4 separate regions of the Homo sapiens genome follow, and regions 1, 2 and 4 are each linked to region 3. Evidence: fine-mapped expression QTL. A gene starts in region 3. Each other region holds a variant in brackets. All regions are shown on one strand. Distances are between the middles of the regions.

Region 1 (8,106 bases), 260 kb before region 3:
CTCCTGTACTTGTCAGGGATTCCTGCCTTGCCTCTTCCTAGCTTTCTGTGGTTTCCTGGCAGTCTTCAGTGTTCCTTGGTTTGCATACGCATCAGTCCAATCTTCTGTCCAATCCATGGCCTTCTTCCCTGTGTCTCTGTGACTCGGTGTGTCCTCTCCTCTTTTATAAGGACACCAGTCATTGACTTAGGCCCTCCCTACTCCAGGATGACTTCATCCTAATCAACAGCATCTGCAATAACCTTATTTCTTTCTTTCTTTCTTTTTTTTGAGAGGGACTTTCACTCTTGTTGCCCAGGCTGGAGTGCAATAGCGCGGTCTCAGCTCAATGCAACCTCCGCCTCCTGGGTTCAAGCGATTCTCCTGCCTCAGCCTCCCGAGTAGTTGGGATTACAGGTATGGGCCACCACACCCAGCTAATTTTGAATTTTTCGTAGAGATGGGGTTTCTCCATGTTGGTCAGGCTGGTCTCAAACTCCTGAACTCAGGTGATCCACCCGCCTCGACCTCCCAAAGTGTTGGGATTACAGGCATGAGCCACCACGCCCGGTCCGCAATAACTCTATTTCTAAATAAGGTCACATTCTGAGCTGCTGGAATTTAGGATTTCAACATGTTTTGAGGAGGACTCAATTTAACCCGTAAGAATACTATGTGGACCACACATGCTGCTTCACATCTGTTATCCCAGCACTTTGGGAGGTTGAAGCAGGAGGATCATTGCTCAGGGCGTAGGGGACACCAGGTGCATAAGACCACAGCGTTGACTGGTGTGGGGGCTCACACCTGTAAGTTTGGGAAGCTAAGGTAGGACGATCACTTGAGCCCAGGAGTTTGAGGCCAGTCTGGGTGACATAGTGAGACCTCATTTCTAAAAAAAAAAAATTAATTAGCTGGGCTTGGTGGTAGCCACCTACAGTCCCAGCTACTCAGGAGGCTGAAGCAGGAGGGTCGCTTGAGTCCAGAAGATCAAGGCTGTGGCGAGCTGTGATTGCAACCCTGCACTCCAGCCTGGGCAATAGAGCAAGCCCTGTCTCAAAAAAAAAAAAAAAAAAAAAAAGGCATCTCCCTTGTCTTCTGATTCCCTGAGCTGTCATAGAAAGGAAGTGAAGCAGAGAAAGCATCCCCACGAAAGGGAATTTTCAAAACCAGCCTAAGCAACATAGCAAGATCTTGCCTTTAGAAAGTATTTAAATTGGAAGGAAAAAAAAAAAAGCAGTACTATAGCACAGAGTTGACAGCTACAGGTGTGGCTACATCCAGGTCCTAAAACTATATCATCAGAATGACCCCTCACCCTCCCCCCGCTTTCCATTTTACTTTCTTAAGCATGAACATGAAATTTCCAAGATTGTCTCTCCTTTGGCTAATCTGCTTCTCAGACCCAATCACTGTGGCCAGGGTGGTGGAAGGACACTGGCATCCAGGCTGGGACCACATGCCCCAGCTCCAGATCAGGGTGGGGAATAGCCAGTGGCACACATGCCATGGGGGACTAGTGACTCCTCAGTGGAAAATCGGGGACTGTCATTGGAGAGCAGCGATAGAAGAAAGGCTGACACAGTGCAATGTATCTCCTGCACCAGCCTGGGCCTCGATGTCTTGAGTACTGATGACACAGTACTCAGTCCAGGGCAATCCCAACTCCATCTGCGGGGCTGCCCACAGTACATGAACCCCTCACTGGATTTGCTGACCACACGTGCAAACAGCCACCTCCCAGCCCCACTCCCCGCAGTCTCCCTGAACCCTGTCAAAATTCCCCTCAGTTCTCACCAAGATTAAAAGCAATTCTGAGGGTGAGCGGCTCATTCTGCTAGTTTAACTCTCTCAATTCCTTCTCTCTCCAGAACTCTGTACTTACTGCTCCATCACTGGTAATGACAATGAACATCTTCACAATCTCAGGTTTTATTGCAAAGTGATTGAGGACCAGTTAGAATAAGTTATGCTACAGAAACTAAAGAAATCCCATCAAGCAAATGGTGTGTCATTGAAAGTCTTAGGACAGCTGTGTATATTCTCTCCCCCAATGAATCAATTGAAAATGAGAAGCTCTTACCGCCATGTTCCGGGCAGAATCTATCAAAAGTATAAGCCATGATATTATAATTTGATGATTTTTCATCCGTCAAATGGATATGGCCCAGGGGAGAAAAGTGGACGCTCCGTAACTAGATGATGGTCAAGAGTTATAAAAATGAGGTCCTCTCTGTTCAACATTTCTCCTTTCTTGAAAGGATACTCAATGTCACGCTCAGGGCCTCTAATGGCCAGAGATAAAATTCCTCCCAGTTCCAGAGCACCCCAGGGCAACCCCAAAACCAGAGCAACTGCTTATTGCCACGTAGACTATGTACTGTGCAATTCCTGGGGTGGCATTTTCATAAATATGTGGGTGGCGCCCCCTGGAGGTATGTAATGCACAACTTGCACAAACGGTAAGTCATCGTATCCCAAAGTCCACAAAGAAGAGGTAAGCAAAACTCCCATCGATGTTGCCATCAGTCATGAGTCTGCCTTTTCTTCATGGGACAGTAGCAAAAACAATTTGGCCAAGTGTGCTTGGATGATCTCTAAGATGGAATCAGGGTCTCTCACTTTCAGCACTATTGACATTTGGGGCTGGATCATTCTTTTGTCTTAGTGGGAGTTGTCCGGGGCATTGTAGGATGTTTAGTAGCATCCCTGGCCTCTACCCATTAGCTGCCAGTAGCACCACCTCCTCCAGCCGCAACCACCAAAATTGTCTCCAGACATGGCCACATGTTCTCTGGGGGGCAAAATCACCCCCTGGCTGAGAAGCCCTGAAGTAAAGACATAATACGCAGATCACATGTAAGTAAGAGAGCCTAAGGGCCACACAGGTGATGCTGTACCCCTGACAAAGCCAGAGTCTTAAAGAGGTTAGAGAGGTGGAGAAAGAGAAAGGAAATGAAGTCCCAGCTGCCGAGAGCAACAGATGCTGACTAGATGTTGTTGATAGTCATCTTTAAACTGAGGTTAAAAGATGCTGAGAAGCCATCAGCTCCCATCCTGCTCTCCAGGGACAACGCTGCTGAAAAAGGCCTGGAGATCAACAAAGCCCCAAACACAGCTGCACTGAGCAAAGAAACCAGAGATTGAGACAAAATGACATTCCCTCAAAGACTACTCATTTCCAAGAGGGGAGAAAAAGTGGAGTCATGAAAAACAGTTGAGGCTGGATAGAGTGAATCACACCTGTAATCCCAGCACTTTGGGATTACTCCCAGGCTGAGACGGGAAAATTGCTTGAACTCAGGAGTTCAAGACCAGCCTGGGCAAAATAGCAAGACCTTGCCTCTAGAAAAAGGGAAAAAAATTAGCCAGGTGTGATGATACACGCCTGTGGTCTCAGCTACTCGGGAGGCTGAGGTGGGAGGATCGCTTGAACCCAGGAGGTAGAGGCTGCAGTGAGCCGGGATTGCACCACTGCACTCCAGCCTGGGCTACAGATCTTGTCTCAAAAAAGAAAAAAATTAAACAAAATTAAGGCCGGGCACGATTGCTCATGCCCGTAATCCTAGCACTTTGGGAGGCCAAGGTGGGCAGATCACGAGGTCAGGAGATTGAGACCATCCTGGCTAACACGGTGAAACCCCATCTCTACTAAAAATACAAACAATTAGCCGGATATGGTGCTGGGTGCCTATAGTCCCAGCTACTCTGGAGGCTGAGGCAGAAGAATGGAGTGAACTCGGGAGGTGGAGCTTGCAGTGAGCCAAGATCACCCCACTACACTCCAGCCTGGGCAAAAAAGCAAGACCCTATCTCAAAAAAAAAAGAAAATTGAAAATTTTTTTGAGACCAAGTCTCACTCTGTCACCCAGGCTGGAGTGAAATGCTGCGATCTCCACTCACTGCAACCTCCGCCTCCTGGGTTCAAGTGATTCTCATATCTCAAACTCTTACCTCAACATGACTACAGGCATGTTGTCACCATGCCTAATTTTTGCATTTTTAGTAGAGATGGGGTTTCACCATGTTGTCCAGGATGGTCTTGAACTCCTAGGTTCAAGCAATCTACCCACCTCAGCCTCCCAAAATGCTGAGATTACAGGCATGAGCCACCGTGCCCGACCTCTAACTTTTCATTATGGAAATTTCCCATACGCACAAAAAGCAGGGAGAGAATTGCACGATGAACCCCCATGCACCCATCATCCCACTGCAAGAACTTGTCAACATTT[C/T]GCCAATCTCATTCCAGTTCCCACTTTTCTTTTCCTTCTTGCTATTTTAGGATATTTTAAAGCAAATTCCAGACATTTCATTTCACCCACATCCATAACACGCCAGGGTGCATTCTTGATGTAAGGATTTTGTTTTGTTTTATAACACCCATGACATTGCCACACTTAATTGATTTAACATGAAGAAACTAAGATTCTTGCAGGTGGAGAAAAGATCTAATTACCACCTTAAAGCCTCTCCTACTAGCGCTTCTCAGATCTGAACGTGTATGCAAATCACGTGGGCATCTTGTTAAAATGCAGATTCTGGCCCAGCAGGTCCTTCCGGGTGAGCCCTGAGAGTCTTCAATTCCAAAAGCTCCCTGGTGACGCAATGCTGTGGGTCCATGAATCACACTAGAGGAAGGGTCGGCCAAACACCCACAACAACTGGGTGCAAAGTCCTGACTGTTCCTGACTGCAGGGCCTTCAGTGAACGGGGAAGCTGGGGACCATTAGGGAAAGAAGGGAGGTTTTTCGTATCAGCTCCAGGCCTTGTAGAACTGCCAGGGAATAACAGACACAAGGGCAGCAAAGTCTAACCAACAGCACGAGTTCATTCATATTCCACAACCACTGCAGCAAAGAACCATGAAATGGGTGGCTTCAAACAATGTCTGGGCCGGGTGCCGTGGCTCACACCTAAATAATCTCAGCACTTTGGGAGGCTGAGGTGGGTGGATCACTTGAGGCCAGGAATTCGAGACCAGCCTGGCCACTATGCCAAAACCTCGTCTCTACTAAAAATACAAAAATTAGCCATGCATGGTGGCAGGCACCTGTAGTCCCTGCTTCTTGGGAGGCTGAGGCAAGAGAATGGCTTGAGCCTGGGAGGCGGAGGTTGCAGTGAACTGAGATCGTGCCACTGCACTCCAGACTGGGCAACAGAGCAAGCCTCTGTCTAAAAAAAAAAAAAAAAAAAAAAAATTGTCTGGAAGCCAGAAGTCCAAAATCAATCAAATGTCAGCAGGAGCATGCTTCTTCAGAGGTTCTAGAGGTGAATCCATTCCTTGCCTCTTCCAGCTTGTAGAGGCTACTAGAATTCCTCAACTTGTGGCTGCATGATCCATTCTTTGCCTCTGTGATCACCTTGCCTCCTCCTCTTCTGTCTGGGTCTCCTCCTCTGGAGGAAGAGTGTCAGGCCTCTGAGCCCAAGCTAAGCCATCATATCCACTGTGACCTGCATGTACATACCCAGGTGGCCAGTTCCTGCCTTAACTGATGACATTATCTTGTGAAATTCCTTCTCCTTGCTCATCCTGGCTCAAAAGCCCCCCTACTGAGCACCTTGTGACCCCCACTCCTGCCTGCCAGAGAACAACCCCCCTTTTTCCTTTACCTACCCAAATCCTGTAAAATGGCCCCACCCCTATCTCCCTTCACTGACTCTCTTTTTGGACTCAGCCCACCTGTACGCAGGTGACATAAACAGTTTTATTGCTCACACAAAGCCTCTTTGGTGGTCTCTTCACACAGATGCATGTGAAATTAGGTGCTGTGACTCAGATCGGGGGACCTCCCTTGGGAGATCAATCCCCTGTCCTCCTGCTCTTTGCTCTGTGAGAAAGATCCACCTACGACCTCAGGTCCTCAGACTGACCAGCCCAAGCAACATCTCACCAATTTCAAATCTGGTAAGCGGCTTCTTTTTACTCTCTTCTCCAACCTCCCTCACTATCCCTCAACCTCTTTCTCCTTCCAATCTTGGCATCACACTTCAATATCTCCCTTCTCTTAATTTCAATTCCTTTCATTTTCTGGTAGAGACAAAGGAGACACGTTTTATCCGTGGACCCGAAACTCCGGCGCTGGTCATGGACTAGGGAAGGCAGCCTTCCCTTGGTGTTTAATCATTGCAGGGACGCCTCTCTGATTATTCACCCAGGTTTCAGAGGTGTCAGACCACGCAGGGATGCCTGCCTTGGTCCTTCACCCTTAGCAGCAAGTCCTGCTTTTCTGGGGGAGGGGCAAGAACCCCGACCTCTTATCTCTGCACCCCGATACCTTATTTTCATGCCCTGACCTCTTATCTCTGTGCCCTGATCCCTTATTTCCATGCCCGCCCTCTTATTTCTGAGCCCCGATCCCTTATTTCCACAACCTGACCTCTTATCTCTGCACCCCAACCTTTTATTTCTGTGCCCCAACCCCTTTCCCTCTTTTCTGGAAGGCAAGAACCCCCCATCCCTTCTCTCCATGTCTCTACTGTCTCTTTTCTCTAGGCTTGCCTCCTTCACTATGGGCAAGCTTCCATCCTCCATTCCCCTTTCTTCTCCTTAGCCTGTGTTCTTCAAAACCTAAAACCTCTTCAACTCACACCTGACCTAAAACCTAAATGCCTTATTTTCTTCTACAATGCCGCTTGACCCCAATACAAACCCAACAGTGGTTTCAAATAGCCAGAAAACGGCACTTTCAAATTTTCCATCCTACAATATCTAGATAATTCTAGTCATAAAATGAGCAAATGGTCTGAGATGCCTGATGTCCAGGTATTCTCTTACACATTGGTCCCTCCCTAGTCTCTGTTCCCAATGCAACTCATCCCAAATCTTCCTTCTTTCCCTCCCACCTGTCCCCTCAGTCCCAACCCCTAGTGTCGCTGAGTCTTTCTAATCTTCCTTTTCTACAGACCCATCTGACCTCTCCCCTCCTCGCCAGGCTGAGCTAGCTCCCAATTCTTCCTCAGCCTCTGCTCCTCCACCCTATAATCCTTTTATCACCTCCCCTCCTCACACTGGATCTGGCTTGCAGTTTAATTCTGTGACCAGCCCTCCCCAACCTGCCCAGCAATTTCGTCTTAAAAAGGTGGCTGGAGCTAAAGGCATAGTCAAGGTTAATGCTCCTTTTTCTTTTTCTCAAATCAGATAGCGTTTAGGCTCTTTTTCATCAAATTTAAAAATCCAGCCCCGTTCATGACTCGTTTGGCAGCAACCCTGAGTTGCCTTACAGCCCTAGACCCTAAAAGGTCAAAAGGCCGTCTTATTCTCAATATACATTTTATTACCCAGTCTGCTCCCGACATTAAATAAAACTCCAAAAATTAAATTCCGGCCCTCAAATCCCACAACAGGACTTAATTAACCTCGCCTTCAAGGTGTACAATAATAGAGCAGAGGCAGCCAAGTAGCAACATATTTCTCAGTTGCAATTCCTTGCCTCCACTGTGAGACAAACCCCAGCCAAATCTCCAGCACACAAGAACTTCCAAACGGCTAAAGCGCAGTGGCCAGGCATTCCTCCAGAACCGCCTCTCCCAGGAGCTTGCTACAAGTGCCAGAAATCTGGCCACCAGGCCAAGGAATGCCTGCAGCCCAGGATTCCTCCTGAGCCATGTCCCATCTGTGCAGGACCCCACTAGAAATTGGACTGTTCAACTCACCTGGCAGCCACTCCCAGAGCCCCTGGAACTCCAGCCCAAGGCTCTCTGACTGACTCCTTCCCAGATCTTCTTGGCTTAGCAGCTGAAGACTGACAATGCCCGATCGATTGCCTCAGAAGCCTACAGGACCATCACAGATGCTCTACGTAACTCTCACAGTGGAGGGTAAGTCCATCCCCTTCTTAATCAATACGGAGGCTACCCACTCCACATTACCTTCTTTTCAAGGGCCTGTTTCCCTTCCCTCCATAACTGTTGTGGGTATTGACAGCCAGGCTTCTAAACCTCTTAAAACTCCCCAACTCTGGTGCCAACTTAGACAATACTCTTTTAAGCACTCCTTTTTAGTTATCCCCACCTGCCCAGTTCCCTTATTAGGCTGAGACACTTTAACTAAATTATCTGCTTCCCTGACTATTCCTGGACTACAGCCACGTCTCATTGCCACCCACCTTAACCCACAAGTAGAAGATA
Region 2 (8,106 bases), 28 kb after region 3:
ACTGGAGAGTTCATTTCTCCACTTTCCTGTTAGCTAGCTGTGGCCAGGTGACTAGGTTTTGGCCCTCAGGACGTGAGTAGACAGCTGGACAAATGGACAGGTAAGATGGGAAAGCAAAGCCTTAGGATGCAACAGAGTTGCCTAGATGCCTGTCAGGACCAGAGCAGAGGAAAGATGACAGAGACAACTGTCCAGGCAGATGAGACCTGCCAGCCATTTGCACAAATGGGGCCTTCATGACACATTGTCACCAGTGGGGCAGAATTGTTGCATCACTTGCCACAGGTGAGGTGGCCAAAAAGCCAGTGTGCCTTCTCCATCCTCTCTCCCTTTCTGCTAATGAGCAGATTGACCTTGGAAACCTGAAGGAGAACTGAGAAGCCATTTATAGAAAAACTGAAGTCCCTGGAAGCCACTCTCTGAACAAGAGTGCTGATTTTGGACTTGGTGTGATTGAAAACTGAAGTTCTATTGTGTGAGCTGTTACGTTTGCATTTGTTAAGAGGAAATACCACTGAAACAATGGAGAAGGCATCCAGCAAATGCCTCCAACAAAAAATTCCTCCTACCCTACCTGGAAGCTGCAAGTCCCTGGGTAAAGCCGGCAGGTAAACAGTCAACCTCTAGGGCATTCAAATTAGGTGCCACCTTCCCCAAAGAAAGTTAGAAAGGAGACAATTGGAAGGAAGATGAGGCAGGCCTGGGGCCCCAGGAATGCTCAGTGGGCCATGGTGATGTCCCTGGGGTCGGGGAGAGCAGCTGGAGTGACCCCCCAGTCTCTGGTCATCAAGAGATTGTTCAAGCCAGCTGGATTGAGTGGCCCCCCTCAGTGGGCAGTTCACTGAGGTTAAATTTAAATGCAGATTTAGTCATAATCCCTACAGGCTTTGGAAATAAGAGCCTGGTGAGTCTATTCTAAAGGTCATCTCTGAGAATGAATTGTAGGAAAAGCCAAAAAGCTTGAAAAACAGGATTGTTCTTTGATGTATGGAAAAGATTACAAAGCAAGAGGAATTGGAACATGATCTTCTTTAGCATAAAGTATTCATAGTTCAATAAAATAGAATAAAACTCAGAATTGGAGTATAGTCACACACCACATAACATTTTGATCAGTGATGGACCAGATATACAACAGTGGTCTCATAAGATTCTAATACCGCATGTTACTGTGCCTTTTCTGTTTAGATACACAAATGCAACTGTGTTACAGTTGCCTAGCGTATTCAGTACAGTCACATGCTGTTGAGGTTTGTAGCCTGGGAGCGATAGGCCATACCATACAGCCCAGATGGTAGTCTTTACCACGTAGGTTTGTGTAAGCACGCTGTGTGACATTCACACAATGAAGCATTTCTCAGAATATATCTCTGTTGTTAAGCAAAGCATAACGGGACTCACAAGCTATGCCAAGCAGGACTAAAACTGTAAATTAGACAAAAACCAATAAAACCAAGCTGCTGACAACTCCCAGGCGAAACCAAACCAAAAAACGGCTCTACAATGACCTCCCATTACAACCTCCCAACAACTGTCATTAACCTCTCAGATTGAATGTCCTTCCCTGGTAAAATCAAGATGGGCCAAAAGGATGGTGGAATGAATGAATGGTCACCCAGAGAACTTCCAGCTCTCCAGGTTTTCAGCTTCTCTTTCTACAAAGATGTGAGAAAGAGTGCTGAGCACACAAAAAGCAAAGACACTACTAACAGTGACCTACCCTATGATAAAAGTAGTATTTCGGCCAGGCATGGTGGCTCACGCCTGTAATCCCAGCACTTTGGGAGGCCGAGGCGAGTGGATCATCTGAGGCCGTGAGTTTGAGACCAGCCTGGCCAACATGGTGAAACCCCATCTCTACTAAAAATATATATATATAAATTAGCCGGATGTGGTGGCAGGTGCCTGCAATCCCAGCTACTCGGGAGGCTGAGGCAGGAGAATTGCTTGAACCCAGGAGGTGGAGGTTTCAGTGAGCTGAGATCATGCCATTGCATTCCAGCCTGCGGGACAAGAGCAAGACTTCATCTCAACAAATAAATAAATAAATAAAATAAAATAAAAATAGTATTTCAAACCAGGGACAAAGAGATGGATTTCTTAAATAGTGTAAGGACAACTAGCAGTTCATTGCAAAAGTAAAGATTACATCCGTACATGAATCCAGACCTTGTCAAAAAAAAAAGGCAATGAATAATTTGATCAATTAAAAATGACATTTTATATGAAGAGAAAGAATACTTAATATGCAACTAATTTCGAAAAGAACATTTTCCGCTCTGGATTCTTGCAAATAAGAAATGACATTACAGTCGCCCCTTAGTATCCATGGGGGAATTGTTTCCAGACCCCCTGTGGATACCAAACTCCGCATACAAAAGTTTTGAAGTTGACTCTTCAGAACCTGTATACAAAGTTGGCCCTCTGTATCCTCAGGTTTGCATTCTGTGAATACTATAGTTTTGAGCTGTATATGGTTGCAGATGTGGAACCTGCAGATAAGGAGGGCCAACTATTGGGAAAAAAAACAAAAACTACTTACAAGTGGACCTGCTCAGTCCAGACCTGTGCTGTTCAAGGGTACCTGCATTTCCTTATTACATATAAATGTACAGAGCAGAAAGCAGCTGCTGAATCATTTTCTCAAAATCATTCTTGCCCCCAAATCACTGTGACTAACACTTCTGAATTACACAACTTCTTTTAAAAAAATGTATCCTGTCATCACAGCACTTTAGGAGGCCAAGGCAGGAGGATCACTTAAGCCCAGGAATTCAAGACCAGCCTGGGCAACATAGAGACCCTTTCTCTACAAACAAAAACTATCCCTCTTCAAAGTTAGGATGCCTTACAGCTCCAAGTCACAGAAAAATCTCAACTCCAACAGGCTTACACAATAAGAAAAACTAATGACCTCAAGTGCCCAATCCAGAGCCTCCTCAGTGTGGGTTAAATCAGTGCTTCATACCATCAGTGGCCAGGCTCTTCTATCTCTGCTCACCAACCTCCAACTACAGCCCTGGGCCACAAGACGCAAACAATGGATGTATTCAGAAGGGTAATGTGATTCTGCTCATGTCTCTTCATCAGTGATAAACCCTTTCCCAAAAATCATACAGAACACTTCCCTACACATCCTAGAGGTCAAGGCTTGGTCATATGCCCAACCCAAACAGTCCCTGTTGAGGGGGGGAAAACAGGCCACACCAAGGCTTTCATGCAACAAAGCAGCCTAGAACAGTCTGCCCCCTGCTGCAAGGAAATCCAGGTAGAGGAGGGAGAAAGAATGAGGACACAACAGCTGCCACCCTGTTGGCAAATGGTTCCTGGGCTCCTACCGCTTGGGGCCTATGCCATGTACTTCTGGAGGCACCGCTTAGAAACGTGTCAGGAGTAGAAAGAGAAGCACATTTTCTTTATACAATACTATTTTCATTGTCAGTGCAATGAGCACTACTGTTTGCACCTAGTTCTTAACACAAGCTTGAGTTGTTAATGGTATAATACGCTGCCTTTGCATTATTTCTTTTTTTTGTGATGGGGTCTTGCTCTGTTGCCCAGACTGGGGTGCAGTGGCACAACCACAGCTCACTGCAAAGCCAAACTCCCTGGCTCAAAGATCCTCCTGCCTCAGCCTCCCAAGTAGCTGGGACCACAGGTGTACACCACCATGTCTGGCTAATTTTTCAACTTTTTACAGAGACAAGGTGGTCTCGCTGTGTTGCCGAGGCTGGTCTTGAATTCTTGGGCTCAAATAATCCTCCTGCCTCAATTTCCCAAAGTGCTGGGATTACAGGCATGAGCCACCATGACCAGCCTTTGGTTATGTTCTGTTTTTATTGAAGTGACTAAAACCCAAAACAACTGAACACTTTAAAGGTTACTGTTTGGCTTCTTTATTGACAAGCAGATCAATAAGCACGGGCAGAGCTATTTATATACGCCAAAGAACAGTAACAGAATTGCTAAGTGGTACAGTACTTCTCCAAAACTTTTTATTATCAAATTTTTCAAACACAACTCTTGTAAGAAAAACAGTCAATACCCATGTGCCTGCCAGATCAACACTTGCTTAAATTTTGCCATTTTTGCTTTATCGATGCATGCATCTTTTTCCTGAGCCACTTCAAGGCTGCAGACATCAAGCCAGTTCATCTTTCTATATTCAGCATGTTTGCCCTTGAAAAATAGTCCCTCCACCTTTTCTCTCCTTTTAAAAATGATGGCAGCAGGTGGGTGTGGTGGCTCACACCTGTAATCCCAGCACTTTGGGAGGCCGAGGCGGGCAGATCACGAGGTCAGGAGATGGAGACCATCCTGGCTAACACAGTGAAACCCCATCTCTACTAAAATACAAAAAATTAGCCGGGTGTGGTGGT[A/G]GGCACCTGTAGCCCCAGCTACTCGGGAGGCTGAGGCAGGAGAATGGTGTGAACCCAGGAGGCAGAGCTGGCAGTGAGCCGAGATCGCGCCACTGCACTCCAGCCTGGGCAACAGAGTGAGACTCCGTCTCAAAAAAAAGTCAGCTTTTTGAAGAGACCTAGCCAGGTGTCTTCTAAATGTCATTTTTTAAGTTCTTTTTGTCCTAAAACAGAAACAAATCCCACTAAGGATATGCTCATCATACTGCATTTAAAAGTCTCTTGAAAGAATGAGCTCTTCTACTTAGTGAAGTTACCAATTTGATATAAACTTCAGTTGATTTCTTCTTTGGTTTCAATTTCAAAATGTGCTTTTGAGTACGTAAATTACTCATATTTATCCAAAAGTCAAAACTTCACAAAAAGCTACACGTGAAGAAGCCTTGTCTCTATCCTCAGCCCTGCCACCCTGTTCACTCCTATCTCCATAGGCATTCACTTTTGAGTTTGTAATTTACTCTTCAGGTTTGTAGTTTGTAGTTTATACTTATTTGCAAAATATATATATTATATAAAATATATTGGCCAAGCACAGTAGCTCATGCCTGTAATCTAAGCACTTTGGAAGACTGAGGCAGGAAGACCGCTTGAGCCCAGGAGTTCGTGACCAGCCTGGGCAACATAGCGAGCCCCATCTCTACAAAAAATTTAAAAATTAAAAAAATATATAAACATATATAATAGATAAATATATATACAAAATATCTATGTACATACGTATTATTTCTTCCCCTCAATTCTCAAACAAAAGGCAGCAAGCCATATAGTTTTCTGTACTCTGCATTTCTCAATAACATATTGTATACTGCAAATGTCATACATGTCACATATCAAGTATACTGTACTATTAAGATACAAAGAGGCCGGGCACAGTGGCTCATGCCTGTAATCCCAGCACTTTGGGAGGCCAAGGCGGGCAGATCAACTGAGGTCAGAAGTTTTGAGACCAGCCTGGCCAACATGGAGAAACCCTGTCTCTACTAAAAATACAAAAAATAGCTGGGCACGGTGCCAGGCACCTGTAATCCAGCTACTCATAAGGCTGAAGCAGGAAGAATCACTTGAAACTGGGAGGCAGACGTGGCAGTGAAGCGAGATAGTGCCATGCACTCCAGCCTGGGCAACAGAGCGAGACTCTGACCCAAAAACAAACAAACAAAAAGATACAAAGATACACTGGAGGCATTTTGTGTGGTAGATGTGTTACAACAGTTCTTAAGCTATGGAGAGATATTTCCTGCTGACCACTCGGTGGAGTTCCACTATGTAAATCAAACACAGGCCATGTATGTATGTTGTATGCTGCCCACTAACAAATGTAAGGCCATCTTACCTCAAGTACTCAAATATCTAATACTGTCAGCTTGCTGCTGCAACTTGTTTTTCAAAAGACTTCATCTTCCAACAATGAATGTCATTAGCATTAGATGTATCACACATCACATTTGCTAAATTTGGTACCTGAAATGTGACTTCTAGTATTACAGTATTTGTAGGGAAAAAAAAGTATCTCGGCCGGGCGCAGTGGCTCACGCCTGTAATCCCAGCACTTTGGGAGGCCAAGGCGGATGGATCACAAGGTCAGGAGATCGAGACCATCCTGGCTAACATGGTGAAACCCCATCTCTACTAAAAATACAAAAATTAGCCGGGTGTGGTGGCAGGTGCCTGTAGTCCCAGCTTCTTGGGAGGCTGAGGCATGAGAATGGCGTGAACCCGGGAGGCGGAGCTTGCAGTGAGCCGAGATCACGCCACTGCACTCCAGCCTGGGCGACAGAGCAAGACTCCATCTCAAAAAAATAAAGTATCTCTATCTCCTAAACTGATAGACGTCCCCTCAGTATTAATTGTCTGCTTATAGTTGAATTTTTCCTGAAAGCTTTCATGCATAGAAAACATAGTTTTACACCAGTATCAATCATATGTTGTGCAAATGTGCTGGAACTTTGTAAATGCTTTTATATTACTGTTCTATCGGTTTTTCCCTGTGATTTATGTGAAACATACTGTATTTGATTTCTTGGTGGATACTAATATACAAGATGTTCTCAGGGGTCTCTCCTCATTTGAGTTTTCTGGTTTTTTTTTTGTTGTTGTTGTTTTTTTTGAGATGGAGTTTTCATTCTTGTCACCCAGGCTGGAGTGCAATGGCATGATCTTGGCTCACTGCAACCTCCGCCTCCGAGGTTCAAGCAATTCTCCTGCCTCAGCCTCCCAAGTAGCTAGGATTACAGGCATTTGCCACCACGCCTGGCTAATTTTTGTATTTTTAGTAGAGATGGGGTTTCCTCATGTTGGCCAGGTTGGTCTTGAACTCCTGACCTCAGGTGATCCATCTGCCTCAGCCTCCCAAAGTGCTGGGATTACAGGTGTGAGCCACCATGCCCGGCCAGTATTTTCTAAGATAACACAAAATCTTCCCATATCCATTTCATTTGTGGAGAGGCCTCCAGTCCCTATATCTTGTGTTTTCTGATGCCAACTAAGGATTTAATTTACACAGAAGGAGACCCCTACATTATTTACATTCATAAGGTTTCTACCATGAATTTTGGTTTGAAAAACAAATTGACTTTACACATGAGGATTTCCCATATTTGTTACAATTCAGAGTATCACTCTTGTGTGGAGGATGACTTCATACAGATTTCCCACATGTATTGCCTTCATATGGTTTCTCCCCTGTGTGAGTTCTCTGATGATTGATGAGGTTTGACTTCACATAAAACATTTTCCTGCATTCATTACACTCAAAAGGGTTCTTCCTGGTATGGGGTCTCTGATGCACAGTGAGGTGTGATTTCATACAGAAATAAGTAACAGATTTGCTACATTTATAGGGCTTCTCTTCTATGTGAGTTCTCTGGTGAATGGTCAAGGGTGACTTATAACAGAAGGATTTCCCACATTTATTACATTCATGGGGTATCTCCCCTGGGTGTGTCCTCTGATGTTCAATGAGGTGTGACTTCTGGAAGGTTTTTCCACATTGCTTACATTCATAGGGTTTCTTGTGTGGTGTATTTTCGATGATGTTTAGCAAGGTGTGACCTCTGGTAGGTTTTCCCACATTCTTTACATTCACAATGTTCCTCCCATATATGTATCCTCTGATGCTGACTGAGGGCTGACTTCATATAGAAAGATTTTCTACATTCATTACATTTATAAGGCTTCTCCCCATATGAGTTCTCTGATGTACTGTTAGGGTTGATTTATGGTGAAAAGTTTTCTGACATTCAGTACATTCATAGGATTTCTCTTCTCAGTGTGTTCTCTGATGATCAGTGAAGTTTGACTTCATAGAAAAGGCCTTCCCACATTCATTACATACATGGGGTCTCTTTCCTGTGTGATTTCTCAGATGAATATTAAGATGTGACTTCAGGCCAAGTGCAGTAGCTCATGCCTGTAATCCCAGGACTTTGGGAGGCCAAGGCAGGCTGATCACTTGAGGTCAGGGGTTTAAGACCAGCCTGTCTCTACTAAAAATACAAAAATTAGCTGGGCATGGTGGCAGGCACCTGTAATCCCAGCTAGTTGGGAGGCTGAGGCATGACAATCGCTTAAACCCAGGAGGTGGAGGCTGCAGCGAGCCAAGATCACGCCACTGCACTCCAGCCTGGGTGACAGAGCGAGACTCCATCTCAAAAAATTAAAAAAAAAAAAAAAAAGATGTGACTTCAGA
Region 3 (8,106 bases):
TTAGAGACAGAGTCTCGCTCTGTCACCCAGGCTGGAGGCTCACTGCAACCTCCGCCTCCCGGGTTCAAGCAATTCTCCTGCCTCAGCCTCCCGATTAGCTGGGACTACAGCACATGCCACCATGCCTGGCTAATTTTTGTATTTTTAGTAGAGATGGGACTTCACCATGTTGGCCAGGCTGGTCTCCAACTCCTGAGCTCAGGTGACCCGCCTGCCTCGGCCTCCCTTTTGCTAAGATTACAGGCATGAGCCACAGTGCCTGGCCAACCACTGAGATTTAGAAAGCAGTCGAGTCCACTATACCGCACCTCACCTGGTTTCTTCCTCTGTTGGGGCCCCTCGTGGCCACTGTTCTCCTGGTACTTTTCAGTCCTGTTTATTTAAATTGATGGTGAGCTGTTTGTCCTCCCGGCTCCAACACTTCCACCTTCAGCTTGTATTACCACAACAATACCAGCCCTTCAAGCAATTCTGGGTGACCCCAAAACTCATTTGAACTCAGCAGCCCAAGAGTTTCATTCCTCTAACTTTAGGGGACTCAGTGCCTCTGGTCAGCATGAAGTAGATACAGAAGCATGACCTCCATCCCTAATCCCTCAAGAATGAGGAGTGGAAGGTGTCGGCAGGAGGGTGGGGACACGGTTTGTAAATCTGGAACTGCATCAGACTAAATCTAGTTCAAGTTTTTTTTTTTTTTTGACGGAGTTTTGCTCTTGTCACCCAGGTTGCAGTTTAATGGCGCGATCTCGGTTCACTGGAACCTCCGCCTCCTGGGTTCAAGAGATTCTCCTGCCTCAGCGCATCACCACCCCTGGATAATTTTTGTATTTTTAGTAGAGGCGGGGTTTCACCATATTGGCCAGGCTGGGCTGGAACTCCTGACCTCGTGATCTGCCTGCCTCAGCTTCCCAAAGTGCTGGGATTACAGGTGTGAGCCACCACACTCCACGTCCATTTCAACTTTTATGTAATGTAGTTGGCAGTTGTTTTTCAACTGCCATGGATCCGTGGGTTGAAGGTCATATACTCTGAGCATGCCCAGATTAACCAAGCATGCAACCACGAAGTGGAACCTAAGTGCTCGGACTGAGGAGCTGGGACCCATTTAAGAACCGGACACCCTGTGGCAGGAGCCAGGAACCAATGAGATTGAGTTTTGGTGTCACTCCATGGCAGGATCCAGTCAGATCACACCTCCCAGCATTAATTACTTCATCTCAAGATCCAATCAAATCACATCTCCTTACCCTATGCGTACAAAACCTGACATAGCCCCCAGCTGGGAAAGGGAGATTTGAGCATTTCCTCCTGTGTCCTTGCTAGTTGACTTACAAAAAGGCTTTATTTCTCAAAAGCTGGAGCCATGGTATTGGCCTCTGTACACACTGGGCAGCGAGTGCATTGACTGCTCGGTAACATATATGTGGACTACATGCGGACTCGCATTTCCAAAACATTTGATTTGGTTTCAGTAAAAAATACCTTTCTAGCACATTAAAGCAACAGAAGTTCAATTTCTCTTTTTTTCTAAGAATTTGGGCAAATTCAATTTATATAAGTACATACACACCTCTACAAGCCAATCAGAACAGCAAACCTTTAAAGACTCTATATTGTGGCTCATGCCTGTAATCCCAGCACTTTGGGAGGCTGAGGTGATCAGATCGCTTGAGCCCAGAAGTTCGAGACCATCCTGGGCAACATGGCAAAACCCCATCTCTATAGAGAATACGAAAATTAGTTGGGTATGGTGGTACACACCTGCAGTCCCAGCTAATTGGGAGGCTGAGGTGGGAGGAACACCTGAGCCCAGGTAGGTTGAAGCTGCAGTGATCCGTGATCGCACACACTGCACTTCAGCCTGGACGACAGAGTGAGACCCTGTCTCAAAAACAAACAAACAAACTCTATATCTACTATAATACCATTCAGAGGTGGAAAAACATTAGACACTCACACAATCAGAGGTAAAGACCTTTCTAAATTACAGACACACAGACATACAAAGAAATAGAGCTTACAGCTTCAATTCTAAAATTTCAGACATGGGTCAAGAGTAAACACAAAAATGCAAAAACTCACCCTTCCAGATATGAAAGAGCTCTTCTCCTCCCAGTGGGCATGAAATTCTTAATTGATTTCAGCTCAAAATAGACAGAGAAATAGAATAACAAATCAGACTCTGATGTCTCTCACCCAACAGAGATTAGGTCTTTGCAAACATTAATCTCATTACAGAGATCACCATGTGATCAGACCATAAAACCAAATTCCTAGCCCAGCGCGGTGCTTCACGCCTGTAATCCCACCACTTTGGGAAGCTGAGGCGAGTCTACCACCTGAGGTCAGGAGTTCGAGACCAGTCTGGCCAACATGGAAAAACCCCGTCTCTACTAAAAATACAAAAATTAGTCGGGCATGGTGGCATGCACCTATAGTCCCAGCTACTCAGGAGGTTGAGGCAGGAGAATCACTTGAACTTGGGAGGCAGAAGTTGCAGTGAGCCGAGATCGTACCCCTGCACTCCAGCCTGGGCGGCAGAGTGAGACTTTGCCTTGAAACAACAAAAACAAACAAAGTCCCAATCAGTGATGCTAGCAATGTAAACAAATGCAAACCAAAGTAAAACACAGGATTGGTAAATGGGGAAATTACTGAAAAATGAGAAGCCAGCAAATTTCTACTGGCACTTTGGACTCATTCCTGGGAGCCAAGAAAAGATTCACCTGGGCTTCAACAGTTCATGAGGCACTCCAGTCCTGAGGTTTTCCTGGCTCAGTCATGTGATTCCATCAGGGACTTCTGCAAAGACCTGGAAAACCTTAAAACATAAAAGTAAAATCATGACTCTGATACAGATATAAAAATGAGCACATGCTAAAGATTTTATTTAATTCAAGAGGAAACAGGCAGATATTATAACTGGTTCAAAAGAGAATCTGAGGGCTGGACATGGTGGCTCATGCCTGTAATCCCAGCACTTTGGGAGGCTGAGGCGGGTGGATCACTTGAGGTCAGGAGTTTAAGACCAGCCTGGCCAACATGGTGAAACCCCCATCTCTACTAAAAATTCAAAAATTAGTCGGGCTTGGTGGTGTGCACCTGTAATCCCAGTTACTTGGGAGGCTGAGGCAGGAGAATTCCTTGAACCAGTGAGCCAAGATCTCGCCACTGAACTCCAGCATGCACAGCAGAGTGAGACCCTGTCTCAAAATTAAAAAAAAAAAGAGAGAGAGAGAGAGAATCTGAGAAACAGACATATTTTCAGATCAGGAATATTGAAATGATTATGTAAATGGAGAAATGCAGTCAAAACTGCATTTTCTCTAGTGGGGATTGTGGGAAGTCAACCAACTTCCACCAGACAGAACATAACTTGCATCGATTACCTACAGTTTTCAAAGAGGTGTAAAATACCTCAAAGATAAGGAACAGGGTTGGAATCAAGTAACATGGCTTTCTAAATGTGCTTCGTTTTCCATTAAGACGCAAATTTCTTCTTCTGCTTGCCTCATCCTCTTCAGGAAGTAGAGTTCTGGCTAATTTTTTTCTTCTTTCAATTCTGTACATATTCTCTGAGTTTTCTAGCTATCACTAATTCAAAGTGATTTGGAAAAGCTGGAATTCTTTTTCTCCTTGTTGGGGCGAGGATGGTATCCTGTCCCAGGCTAATCCTCTATTATTTCATCCATGGGCTCTATTTACTGAAGTTTTCGTTAAATGTGTCATTGTGATCATAAGCTAGCATGATGCACCCTCTTGTTCCATTTGTCACGGTTGCACATGGACATTGATTTTAAGCCTTGAGCTCTCCGGTAAGGCAGGACTGGCCCAGGCATGGTCTACGAGATGCTACAGGAAGCAGAGACTTTCTAGACGTTCCCTTAAAGATAGTCAAGACATCCCCATGAAGACGTTCCCTTAAACTAAGGAGAAATTTGAGTCTGGGGTTCGGCGTTGCCAATTCTCTTAGCATAGAGCCTCTTAACCGCTAGACCAGATAGAGACATTTCAAATGGCTCCTAAATTTGGGGAGCGCGTAGGCTCATGGGAAATAGAGTCACGGTATTTGTCCTGGGACCGGCGGCGGGTCCCGGGAGGCGGACTTCCGGTGCATTCCTGCGCATGTGCACCCCTCTCTGTGTGCGTGTTCGCGCATGCGCGCCGCGGCCGCAGTGCCCTCGCTTCCTGTGCGTCCCCAGGTCACCGCTCGCCCTAGTTCCCAGGCTTTGGCCTCCGGTGGGCGAGAATCGCGGAGCCTGCGGGGCTGGGCGCCGAAGAGCCGGGCCGGCACCCAAGCGGGCGCGGGGCTGTGCGGGCCAGGCGGAGGCTCAAGCGGGGATCCCCGAGCACGACCCCCGGAGCCGACGGCGCTGGGGCCCAAGGGGCCGGCCGGGCGGTGACGACGGCGGAGGCGAAGGGGCGGCGGGACCCGGGCCCGGCCCGTGTGCGTCCTCGACGGCCCGGCCCCGGCTCCGCAGGACGGTGAGCCCCAGGGAGACGGATCTGGGCTCCGGGAGGGACGCCCCGCCTGGATTTGTCCCGTAGGCCCGGCCCGGGCCCCTCTGGAGCAGAACGGCCTTGGTGAGGTGGACAGGAAGGGACCTCGCGAGCAGACGCGCGCCCGCGACAGCAATCCCGCCCCGGCCTGTCGGGAGCGGTGGGGCAGAGGCTGCGGAGCCCCAGGAGGGTAAGTCGTGGGTTTGCGGGCCCGGGGCGAGAAGGGCCTGGGTGAAGTCACCGCGTGTAGGGCACCTTAGAGTGAGGGACAGTGGAAGGTCTCGATCGCTTGCAGGAGTGACGTGTGTTTGGGTTTGAAGGCAGGGTCCGGCGAGGACGAGGCTTACGGGGGCGTGGGGGGTGTCACCAGCCTCAGCTGCGGACGTTGTCTCCACTCCCCCCTCACCCCAGCAGCCCTTCCTCCTCTCTCTGCTCCAGATTGCTACCGTATCTAAACGTCCGTCAGCACCTCTGTTCTCTCATTTAAGTGCTGATTCCCCCTTAGGTCTGCTCTTGTGGAATCATACGTTGTAGTGCAGGAACAGCCTGCAGGAACTATCTCTTGCTGCCTCATTTGCTAGGGGAAGGGCCTTAGCAGGTGGGTGACTTGTCCGAGGTTTTGTGGGTGGAGTTGCTCATAGTAGAACTCTGGAGTTTTATCTCCCAGGCCAGTGTTCTGTCCCCCGTATCCTAGTTAAGTGAGCGTAAGTTCTTCAATAAAAGATCCTTTTGAGTAGCACACTGAAGTTTCTGCAAATAAAGACTCAATTATGCCGACTGTATTCCTTTATTTAGGGCATCCTGTGGATTTTCTGATCTTTATTTAAAAGAGTAAGAAAATAGATGAGTATTACAGAATTCATTTTTTGTTGTTTGTTTTTTGTTTGTTTGTTTGTTTGTTTTTGAGACAAGTTTCGCTTTGTTGCCCAGGCTGGAGTGCAATGGTGCCATCCCAGCTCACTGCAACCTCCGCCTCCCGGGTTCAAGCGATTCTCCTGCCTCAGCCTCCCGAGTAGCTGGGGTTACAGGCGCCCGCCACCACGCCCAGCTAATTTTTGTATTTTTACTAGACATGGGGTTTCACCATGTTGGCCAGGCTGGTCACCAGAATTCCTTTTTAAATCTTGCATTTAATGATGGCAGATTATTTCAGTAGGATCCAGTATTCATTCACCATGAGAATCTCATCCACTCAGTCACAAGGTAGCCATGTGTGAGTTTCAAATGTGCAGATCGGTCCCCCTCCTGATCATTTTCCAATCCCTTCTGAAGGCTTAAAGGGACAGTCTCCCACAAGATGTACTTCTTGGAACTTTCTGTGTAGGTTTTGGGCGGGAGATGACCGCCTTGGCAGGCCAGACCGCTCATAACGCCATGGCTTGGGTTTTCCTTCCCCAGATCTGCCTCCGCTTTCACAGTCCTCCAGATTTTTCCAAGAGCAGCAGAAAATGAATAAATCCCTGGTGAGTGTTTCTGTTCATGTATTTATTCTCTACTCTGATTTACAATACACCTTAGGAGGAGATTAAGGGTTCAAAGTTTAAAATGGGAAAGTAGAAATAGATACAAGATTTGGTCAGACAGAACAGTAGCCATCAGCACCAAGCCTTTTTATCATATTCATATGCGCAGATAGCGTGATCCTTAAAGAGTTCTTGAAGTCAGAGTACAAGCGTCTTATGTTCTTGGCATTTATCACAAAAAATGATAAATACCATCCATTCCTTGACTTACATTGACCGTAAGCAGAATCACTTTTGTTTTTGCATGAATTTTAAAGATTCCTCTGAGATCATTATCAACAGCTTTCCTAAATAATAACCCTTGAACCATTGCAATTCTTGCCTTTCTTTTTTTTTTTTTTTTTTTTTTTTTTTTTTTGAGACCAAGTATTGCGCTCTGTCACCAGGCTGGAGTGCAGTGGCGCTATCTCAGCTCAGTGCAACCTCCACCTCCCAGGTTCAAGTGATTCTCCTGCCTCAGCCTCTGGAGTAGCTGGGATTACAGGCATCTGCCACCACACCCGGCCTTTTTTTTTTTTTTTTTTTTTTTTAAAGTAGAGACAGGGTTTCACCATGTTGGCCAGGCTGCTCTCGAACTCCTGAGCTCAGGTGATCCACCCGCCTCGGCCTCCCAAAGTGCTGAGCTTACAGGCATGAGCCACTGCGCCCAGCCCATAATATTTCTAGTAACTAAAACATTGTTGTCTCAAAGGTAGATTCTTTTTACTGCTCTATCCGTTGCAGAAATGGCCTTCTCACCCTTAAATTAGTCTCCCTAAATATTTTCTTTTCTTTTTTTTTTTTAAAGATGGAGTCTCACTCTGTTGCCCAGGCTGGAGTGCAGTGGCGCTATCCCTGATTCAAGCGATTCTCCTGCCTTAGCCTCCCGAGTAGCTGCGATTACAGGCACCTGCCACCACACCCAGCTCATTTTTGTATTTTTTTAGTAGAGACGGGGTTTCAGAAGCACTTGGGCCAAGCTGGTCTCGAACTCCTGACCTCAAGTGCCAAGTGATTTGCCCACCTTGACCTCCCAAAGTGCTGGGATTATAGGTGTGAGCCACCATGCCAAGCCGCCTCCCTAAATATTTCTCTTAGTTTATCTGGGTTGCACAGCAGAAAGGACCATAATAAATCTCTGGCATAGATGCCCATTTTATCCCATAGCCTGTGGTCTTGGTCCTGTCCCTACCACTCCCCTGACCTTGTTGGAAAAGGTTGCCAATAATCCAGCACATGCTCTTAGTGGACATTTGCATCTTTGCCTTGGCCCACTCTGCAGTTTGCTCTGTCAGTTTGAGTGCCCTTTCTCTTCTTGCCTGCTTCCTGAAATTGATGATTTCTTTGGTCTTCATGTGTTGGTGTCCACTCTTGGCTCACGACTCTGTACCTATCTGATGTCACCCTCCTGTGCTTCTAACTACCAGCTCTGTGTTGGTTTTCCCACATAGAACTGTCCAGCCACCTGCTTAGCATTTCTTTGGAGTGTGTCCAAAGGACCCCTCAAGGTCATAGATGCAGCAGGTTCAGAATAATTATTTGGAGCCCCCCCACCTATGCCTTCTCTTGTTCCTATTGATTCATTGTTCCATCGTCCAGCCTGTAGCCCTATCGAGAAAGATGGGATTCTTTCTAAAGTTGTCCATTTTCTGACCTCGCGATTGTTTTGAGTTTGTACATGTCATATTCTAGATGGTTTTTATCCTGTCCCCTATCCCCTCCCTGCTGTTGTAAAAATAGCTTATTTTTTGGCCTCTCTACTGTTGTAGAGATTTTCTTTCTATACTGCTACTTTCCTCCACAAGCCCAGGCATATTGCATTTCCCATGTCGAGTATTTCTCCTGAAGTGTTCATCATATCGTGCTTCCCCCATGGGAAAAGCACTTGCGTGGCTCCCAGAGTGGCTACTACGAAAATGAGGTTGCCTGAAGCTGGGATGGGGAAGACTGTGGGTAAAGCAGGCTTGAGAAAAGGCCAGAATTAGGTTTCAGATGTTTAAAATTTGGGCTGTGTTGGTATGCAGTGAGTGGCAGCATCAGGAAGGCAGGTAGGGGTGTGTGTGTGTGTGTGTGTGTGTGTAGTTTGGGAGCTGTGTTAGCTGTG
Region 4 (8,106 bases), 760 kb after region 3:
CGCAACCTCTGTCTCCTGGGTTCAAGTGACTCTCCTGCCTCAGCCTCCTGAGTAGCCAGGATTACAGGCATGTGCCACCATGCCCAGCTAATTTTTGTATTTTTTAGTAGAGATGGGGTTTTTCCATGTTGGTTAGGCGTGTCTCGAACTCCCGACCTCAGATGATCTGCCCGCCTTGGCCTCCCAAAGTGCTGGGATTACAGGCATGAGCCACCGCACCCAGCCTACCTTCATCTGTTTTTACAGCCATTCCCCATCGCTGGCATTCCCGCCTGAGCTCCGCCTCCTGCAGATCAGCAGGGCATTAGATTCTCATAGGAGCGCAAATCCTACTGTGAGCTGAGCATGGGAGGGATGTAGGTTGCACGCTCCTTAGGAGAATGGAATGCCTGATGATCTGTCACTGTCTCCCATCACCCCCAGATGGGACTGTCTAGTTGTAGGAAAACAAGCTTAGGGCTCCCACTGATTCTACCTGATGGCGAGTTGTAGAATTGTTTCATTATGTATTACAGTGTCATAATAATAGAAATAAGGCGTGCAGTAATTCGAATGTGCTTGAATCATCCTGAAACCAACAGCCCCCCACCGCTTTCCACCATTCATGGAAAAACTGTCTTCTACAAAATCGGTCCCTGGTGCCAAAAAGGTTGGGGACCTCTGGTTTCAAGGACAGTATCACAGTGTCACCTGGAAAGCAGTTAGGAAATGTGGAGGGAGCTGGGAAGGCCCAGGTTGGGAGACGAGTGTTCCAGAAATCAGCGCGTGGTCATTTCCCCCGTGATTACGAGGTACTTGATAAAGAGACAGTCTCGTGACATAACAGCAACAGCACGAGGTCACCTACAAAAGCAGGGCCAGCAATGCACGGTCTCAGGGTGAAATCCAGTCCACCCCCGTTCCCCTAAATCATGCTTTACTGGAACACAGACATGCCCGTTTGCTTACGTGTTCGTGACTGCTTTACCCCGAAGCACCACAGCTGAGGGATTGTGATGTAGACGGTCTGGTCCACCAAGCCTAAAATATTTACTCTCTGGCCCTTTACAGAAAGTTTGCCTCCCTCTCTCCCCCTGACCAGCGATCTATAGTAAAAGAGCACTAAATTGTCAGGTCAGAAATGGGGAGATGGCCAGGCCTCGTGGTTTACGCCTGTAATCCCAGCACTTTGGAAGGCCGAGGCGGGTGGATCACTTGAGTCCAGGAGTTTGAGACCCGCCTGGCCAATATGGTGAAACTCCGTCTCTACTAAAAATACAAAAATTAGCCAGGTATGGTGGTACATGCCTGTATTCCCAGCTACTTATTGGGAGGCTGAGACAGGAGTAGAATCGTTTGAGCCTAGGAGGTGGAGGTTGCAGTGAGCCGAGATTTCCAGCCTGGGTGACAGAGTGAGACTCTGTCTCTAAAAAAAATGCGGTGGCTCACACCTGTAATCAGCACTTTGGGAGGCCGAAGTGGGCAGATCATGAGGTCAGGAGTTCAAGACCATCCTGGCTAACATGGTGAAACCCCGTCTCTACTAAAAATACAAAAAATTAGCTGGGTGTGGTGGTACGTGCCTGTAGTCCCAGCTACTCGGGAGGCTGAGGCAGAAGAATCGCTTGAACTCGCGAGGCGGAGGTTGCAGTGAGCCGAGATTGTGCCACTGCACTCCAGCCTGGGCAACAGAGTGAGACTCTGTCTCAAAAGAAAAAAAAAAAAACAAAACAGGGAGAATCAGCAATGGCTTGGAAGAGTCTAGAAAAGGCCCTAAGTAGTCTTAGGATTGGTCTTGATTTCAAATTAGGAAGTTGATGTCATCAATTTAACAACTTTGGAAGTTTAACTTCTTTCAGCCAAATCCTGGCAGGCAGAGCTGCAAGCTTCTAATTATCCGCTTGAAAAATGAAGTATTAGAGCAAATGCCTATTTACGTCAAAGTTTAGTGTTTGAAACATACTTAAAATCCATTTAGAATTAGCAGCATTCATCAGATTGTGTCTCAGACTATTCTGGAAAACAGTGGGACAAGATTGACATCTTTTTTTTTTTTTTTGAGATGAAGTCTCGCTCTGTTGCCCAGGCTGGAGTGCAGTGGCTCAATCTCGGCTCACTGCAGCCTCCACCTCCCGGGTTCCAGCGATTCTCCTGCCTCAGTCTCCCAAGCAGCTGAGATTACAGGTGCCCGCCACCACACCTGGCTAATTTTTTGTATTTTTGGTAGAGACAGGGTTTCGCCATGTTGCCCAGGCTGGTCTCAAACTCCTGACCTCAGGCAATTTGCTGCTGCAGCCTCCCAAAGTGCTGGGATTACAGGCGTGAGCCACCGTGCCTGGCTTTCACGGAGTTTTAAATTTTTGGTTGGACGCTTATACACATGTTCAGAGCATTTTGAAATAAGCGCATATATTCAGTTCTTCGAATTGTATACCAGGCGCAAATAAAATGGAAGGTTCTAGCAAATGTCAGGCATCCTCTCCAATTTTCTTATTTTAGCCAATAATGACATACCAGTTGAAGAAATCCATTCTCCATTTACAACAATACTTTTGAGAACATTTTTGAATTACCTCCTGCATTTGGCGTACCACATTTATCATGAAGAATTCCAGTAAGTACTATTTCTGGACCCTTGTTGGGGGATGGGGCACAGCTAAGCTGTATTATTGTCATAATGCCCTCTTTTCTTCAGCAGTCATTTTTATTTTTTTGGAGATGGAGTCTTGCTCTGTCGCCCAGGCTGGAGTGCAGTGGCACAATCTTGGCTCACTGCAACCTCTGCCTCCCCGGTTCAAGCAATTCTTCTGCCTCAGGCTCCTGGGTAGCTGAGATGACAGGCATGTGCCACCATGCCTGGCTAATTTTTTTTTGTATTTTTAGTAGAGACGGGGTTTCACCATGTTGGCCAGGCTGGTTTCAAACTCCTGACCTCAGGTGATCCACCTGCCTCAGCCTCTCAAAGTTCTGGGATTACAGGCGTGAGCCACCATGCCCAGCCTCAGCAGTCTTTTTTTAACATACTCTTGAAATGAAGGACTCAGAACACAACCTTTCCACAAATATTAACCACAAAGCCATGACATACTGGATCAAAACTTTGAAAGCCCTTCATATCTGGTCAGTTCAATACTGCAAATATCTCTCGGGGTTTCTAATGCAGAAACAAATAGTCACAACCAAGTCTTCTTTCTTATGTCAGAATTTCTTGTCTTTCTTACAGCAAAAGTGGTTTTATATCTTTTTTTAAAAAAACTTTTATTTATATATTTATTTTTTTGAGATGGAATCTCGCTCTGTCACCCAGGCTGGAGTGCAGTGGCGCGATCTCGGCTCACTGCAACCTCCACCTCCCAGGTTCCAGTGATTCTCCTGCCTCAGCCTCCCAAGTAGCTGGGATTACCGGTGTCTGCCACCAAGCCCAGCTAATTTTTTGTATTTTTAGTGGAGATGGGGTTCCACCATGTTGGCCAGGCTGGTCTTAAACTCCTGACCTCGAGTGATCCGCCCACCTTGGCCTCCCAAAATGCTGGGATTATAGGTTTGAGCCACTGACTTTGCCTTCCCTTTCTATACTCTATACATTAGAAGCAAATTATTAAGTCTAGCCCGTGCTCAAGGAGAAGGGAATTAAGTTCCCTCTTTTGGAGGAGAAGTAACTATGGTATCTTTTGATGATTATCACAGAAAGAGAAGCCCATCCCTCTTCTTGTGTTTTACAAAACTGATGACCGAGAACATTCGTCCAAATGCCTTCCAGATAAAAGGTAAATACAAAACCAGTAGGATTCTATTTACCGCCCCATTTTTTTTTCTCAAAATATAAATCTGGGCTGGGCGCAGTGGCTCACTCCTGCAATCCCAGCACTTTGGGAGGCCGAGGCAGGAGGATCACCTGAGGTCAAGGAGTTCAAGACCAGCCTGGCCAACATGGCAAAACCCCATCTCTACTAGAAATACAAAAAAATTAGCCAGGTATGGTGGTGCATGCCTGTAATCCTAGCTACTCGGGAGGCTGAGGCAGGAGAATCGCTTGAGCCTGGGGGGCGGAGGTTGCAGCGAGCCAAGATGGTGCCACTGCACTCTAGCCTGGGTGACATCAAGACTCTGTCTGGGAAAAAAACAAAAGCAATAGGATTATATTTACTGCTATTTTTTTCTCAAAACATAAATCTGTAATCATTTTTCGAACGTTGTATTTTTAGGCAATTTATTCCGTGAGCAACAGCGGACGCTCTACTCTATGAGTTACATGAATAAGTGCTGGGAGATTTATCTCGCTTACTGCAGACCCAGTGCAGCGCCTCCCCACGAGCCTACGATGAAGATGAGACACTTCCTCTGGATGCTGAAAGTAACCACCTAAGTTCGATATTGGCTTTCTATTTACAGGCACTTTGATTTTAATTAAAGAAAGGCAGGATATTCCAGCTGTGATATGCAAATAATCAGGTGAAGATCTGGGCTGGATTTTCAGGACCATTAAATGTTTACTGAGTCTCTTGGCAGAACAGTGGTCTGTGGTCGTGGAAGGAACAGAAACAGCCGTCACCTGCCCAATATGCTAACAGATTAGGGCAAGACAATGGTCCATGGCCTATAACAATGGCCCATGGCATGCATATATATATATATTGCAATCCCAGCACTTTGAGAGGCCGAGGTGGGCGGATCACCTGAGGTCAAGGAGTTCAAGACCAGCATGGACATATATATTTATATATGCCATGGGCCATTGTCTTAAAAAAA[A/T]ATATATATATATATAAATAAATATATATATAATAAATATATATATATTTTTAATTTTATTTTTTTGAGACGGAGTTTTGCTCTTGTCACTCAGGCTGGAGTGCAATGAAGTGATCTTGGCTCACTGCAACCTCCACCTCCTGGGTTCAAGCAATTCTCCTGCCTCAGCCTCCAGAGTAGCTGGGATTACAGGTGCCCGCCACCACACCTGGCTAATTTTTGTATTTTTAGTAGAGACGGGTGTTCACCATGTTGCCCAGGCTGGTCTTGACCTCCCAACCCCAGGTGATCCACCCGCCTCAGCCTCCCTAAGTGCCGGAATTACAGGTGTGAGACACTGTGCCTGACTGGCCTACAATATCTTTATTTATGCAGATCCAGCCATTTAAAGGAAGATAGGGCCGAGTACAGCGGGGCACCCCTGTAATTCCAGCACTTTGGGAGGCCGAGGCAGGAGGATCACTTGAGCTTAGGAATTCAAGACCAGCCTGGGCAACATAGTGAGATCCCCCTCTCTACAAAAAATAAAAAAATCATAGCCGGGCGTGGTAGTGCACGCCTGTAGTCCCAGCTACTCGGGAAGCTGTAGTAAGCTGTGATCGTGCCACTGCATTCCAGGCTGGTTGACAGAGTGAGGCCCTGTCCCAAAAAAATCCCCCAAAAAACAAAAAAGGAAAATGGAGGAACACCTTAGTCTTTTTGATGGACTGAAGTGTTGCCTGATCCTAGAATAGCAATAAAGTCAACTGAAATCTTTTTAAAAAGGAAGGACTTTGGAAGGCGGAGGGGGTGGATCACCCGAGGTCAGGAGTTTGAGACCAGCCTGGCCAATGCTGTGAAACCCCCTTTCGACTAAAAATACAAAAAAATTAGCCAGGCATGGTGGCCGGAGCCTGTAATCCCAGCCACTTCGGAGGCTGAGGCAGGAGAATTGCTTGAACCTGGGAGGCCGAGGTTGCAATGAGCTGGAATTGTGCCACTGCACTCCAGTCTAGGCAACAAGAGCAGAACTCTGTCTCAAAAAAAAAACTAAGGAAGTGGGGAGGATGGATATCATTTAAAACAATTACAGTTTATCGAAAAAGGAATTTTTAAAAGTTATTACTTGGGAAAATAGTGACAACATTTATACAATGTTCTCATACTAACTATTGGTTGTTTTTGTTCCATGATACTTTTTTTTTTTTAGACAAAGTCTCGCTCTTTTGCCAGGGTGGAGTGCAGTGGTGAGGTCTCGGCTCACTGCAACCTCCGCCTCCCGGGTTCAAGCAATTCTCCTGCCTCAGCCTCCCGAGTAGCTGGGACTAAAGGCGTGCATGACCATGCCAAGTTAATTTTTGTATTTTTTAGTAGAGACAGGGTTTCACTATGTTAGCAAGGATGATCTCAATCTCTTGACCTCGTGATCCGCCCGTGTCGGACTCCCAAAGTGCTGGGATTACAGGCGTGAGCCACTGTGCCTGGCCTGTTCCATGGTACTTTTAATTTGTACTTGTGGGAATACAAATGATTAAACAGAATCAAATACTAATGATACAGTGTTTTTACAAATTTCATAATGTTGTATACATATGAAAAATGGATAATAACCTAGTGTCTAACTATAGGAAAATAGTTTTGTTTTTTTGAGCAAGGTTCTCACTCTGTCACCCAGGCTGGAGTACAGTGGTGCAATCTTGGCTTCCTGCAACCTCAACCTCCCGGGTTCAAGCAATCCTCCCACCTCAGCCTCCTGAATAGCTGGGACTACATGTGTGTGCCAACATACCCAGCTAATTTTTCTATTTTTTGTAGAGACGGGTTATTGCCATGTTGCCCAGGCTGATCTTGAACTCCTGGGCTCAAGCAGTCCTTGTGCCTCGGCCTCCTGAAGTGCTGGGATTACAGGCGTGAGCCACTGCACCTGGCCCTTTTCATGGTTTCATTTGTTTCAAGCATGTTTGCAATTGCCCATTGAATAATAATAATAATAATAATAATAATAATTATTATTATTATTATTATTTTGACAGTCTTGCTCTGTCGCCCAGGCTGGAGTGCAGCGACCTGATCTTGGCTCACTGCAACCTCCGCCTCCCGGGTTCAAGTGATTCTTCTGCCTCAGCCTCCCGAGTAGCTGGGATTACAGGTGCATGTCACCACGCTCGGCTAGTAGAGACGGTTTCACCCTGTTGCCCAGGCTGGTCTCAAACTCCTGAGCTCAGGTGATCCAACCATCTCGGCCTCCCACAGTGCTAGGATCAGAGGCATGAGCCACCACACCCAGCCTCATGGAAGCATTTTTGTGATGACTGTCTCACAGTCTCTGTCAGTCAATTGTAACATCTTTGTCATCTTGGAGATGGCATCTGTGGATTCTCTTTTTTTCATTCAGTTTGAGATCTTCCTGGTTCTTGGTATGAGTTTTTTTTTTGTTGTTGTGTTTTTGAGATGGAGTCTTGCTCTGTCTCCCAGACTGGACTGCAGTGGCGTGATCTCAGCTCACTGCAACCTCTGCCTCCTGGTTCAAGTGATTCTCCTGCCTCAGCCTCCCAAGTAGCTGGGATTATAGGTGCGTGCCACCATGCCAGGCTAATTTTTGTATTTTTAGTAGAGACGGGGTTTCTCCATGTTGGCCAGGGTTTCACCATGTTGCCCAGGCTGGTCGGTATGAGTGATTTAAAAAAAAAAACATTGAAACCTGAACATTTGAGTACAGTAAGTCCTCACTTAACATTATTATTATTATTATTTTGAGACAGTCTTGCTCTGTCACCCAGGCTGGAGTGCGGTGGCACGATCTCACCTCACTGCAACCTCTGCCTCCTGGGCTCAAGTGATTCCCTTGCCTCAGCCTCCCGAGTAGCTGGGACTACAGGCACACGCCACCATGCGCAGCTAATTTTTTTGTATTTTTAGTAGAGATGCGGTTTGTCCATGTTGGCCAGGATGGTCTGGATCTCTTGACCTCGTGAGCCGCCTGCCTCGGCCTCCCAAAGTGCTGGGATTACAGGTGTGAGCCACCGCGCCCGGCCCCACATAACGTTATTGATAGGTTCTTGGAAACTGTGACTTCAACCAGTGCCGTGTGGTCAGGAGCTTAACTCTTCTTCATGTCAATTATTCTGCGGTCACATCGGTTTTGTTGTGCAGCACGTTGTTTCCCGACGTGCTTTTCGGCCTACAGCATCGTGTTAATATTTCACACCTGGACCGTGTTCTGGTCTCCCATGTTCTATGTCCTGTTCTGATGCCAACAAATACTCTGCTGTTATTTTGGAGGCACTAGAGAAGGGATAGAGAGGTAAATACGTGTGTGTGTGTGTGTGTGTGTGTGTGTGTGTGTGTGTGTGTGTGTGTGTGTTTGAGACAGGTTCTTGCTTTGTTACCCAGGCTGGA

Alleles and levels. Positions count from the first base shown, and alleles are read on the strand shown. Sizes are in standard deviations (SD) of each study's normalised expression. Not every link is listed here.
In carriers of allele C in region 1, the expression in lung of the gene that starts at base 4,175 in region 3 tends to be lower than with T alone (moderate effect, 0.65 SD a copy in GTEx).
As copies of T replace A in region 4, the expression in naive CD4 T cells of the gene that starts at base 4,175 in region 3 goes down (large effect, 0.89 SD a copy in Schmiedel 2018).

The links. PIP is the estimated chance that this variant, and not a neighbour inherited with it, causes the effect.
Region 1: its variant is fine-mapped to the expression of ZNF12 in lung (GTEx, PIP 0.98).
Region 2: its variant is fine-mapped to the expression of ZNF12 in whole blood (INTERVAL, PIP above 0.99).
Region 4: its variant is fine-mapped to the expression of ZNF12 in naive CD4 T cells (Schmiedel 2018, PIP 0.95).

The regions. Positions count from the first base shown.
Region 1 is chr7:6,959,543-6,967,648 of GRCh38, reverse strand. LOC112267992 reads left to right here and starts at 7,601. Exons shown (of 2, transcript XR_002956537.2): 1 at 7,601-7,797. It overlaps LOC107986763 (a long non-coding RNA gene), which reads left to right. Exons shown (of 3, transcript XR_001745073.1): 3 at 5,727-5,804. RefSeq lists an enhancer at 4,414-4,913. The variant C/T (reference allele first, on the strand shown) is at 4,212.
Region 2 is chr7:6,675,317-6,683,422 of GRCh38, reverse strand. No RefSeq gene overlaps it. Among named protein-coding and RNA genes, the nearest start is that of ZNF12, 28 kb to the left of the region's middle. The variant A/G (reference allele first, on the strand shown) is at 4,380.
Region 3 is chr7:6,703,016-6,711,121 of GRCh38, reverse strand. It overlaps ZNF12 (zinc finger protein 12), which reads left to right and starts at 4,175. Exons shown (of 5, transcript NM_016265.4): 1 at 4,175-4,690; 2 at 5,899-5,963. The coding sequence starts at 5,949. RefSeq lists an enhancer at 4,007-4,506 and a silencer at 4,200-4,559.
Region 4 is chr7:5,939,551-5,947,656 of GRCh38, reverse strand. RSPH10B (radial spoke head 10 homolog B) reads left to right here. Exons shown (of 21, transcript NM_173565.5): 13 at 2,479-2,593; 14 at 3,667-3,746; 15 at 4,185-4,333. Among named protein-coding and RNA genes, the nearest start is that of RSPH10B, 27 kb to the left of the region's middle. The variant A/T (reference allele first, on the strand shown) is at 4,729.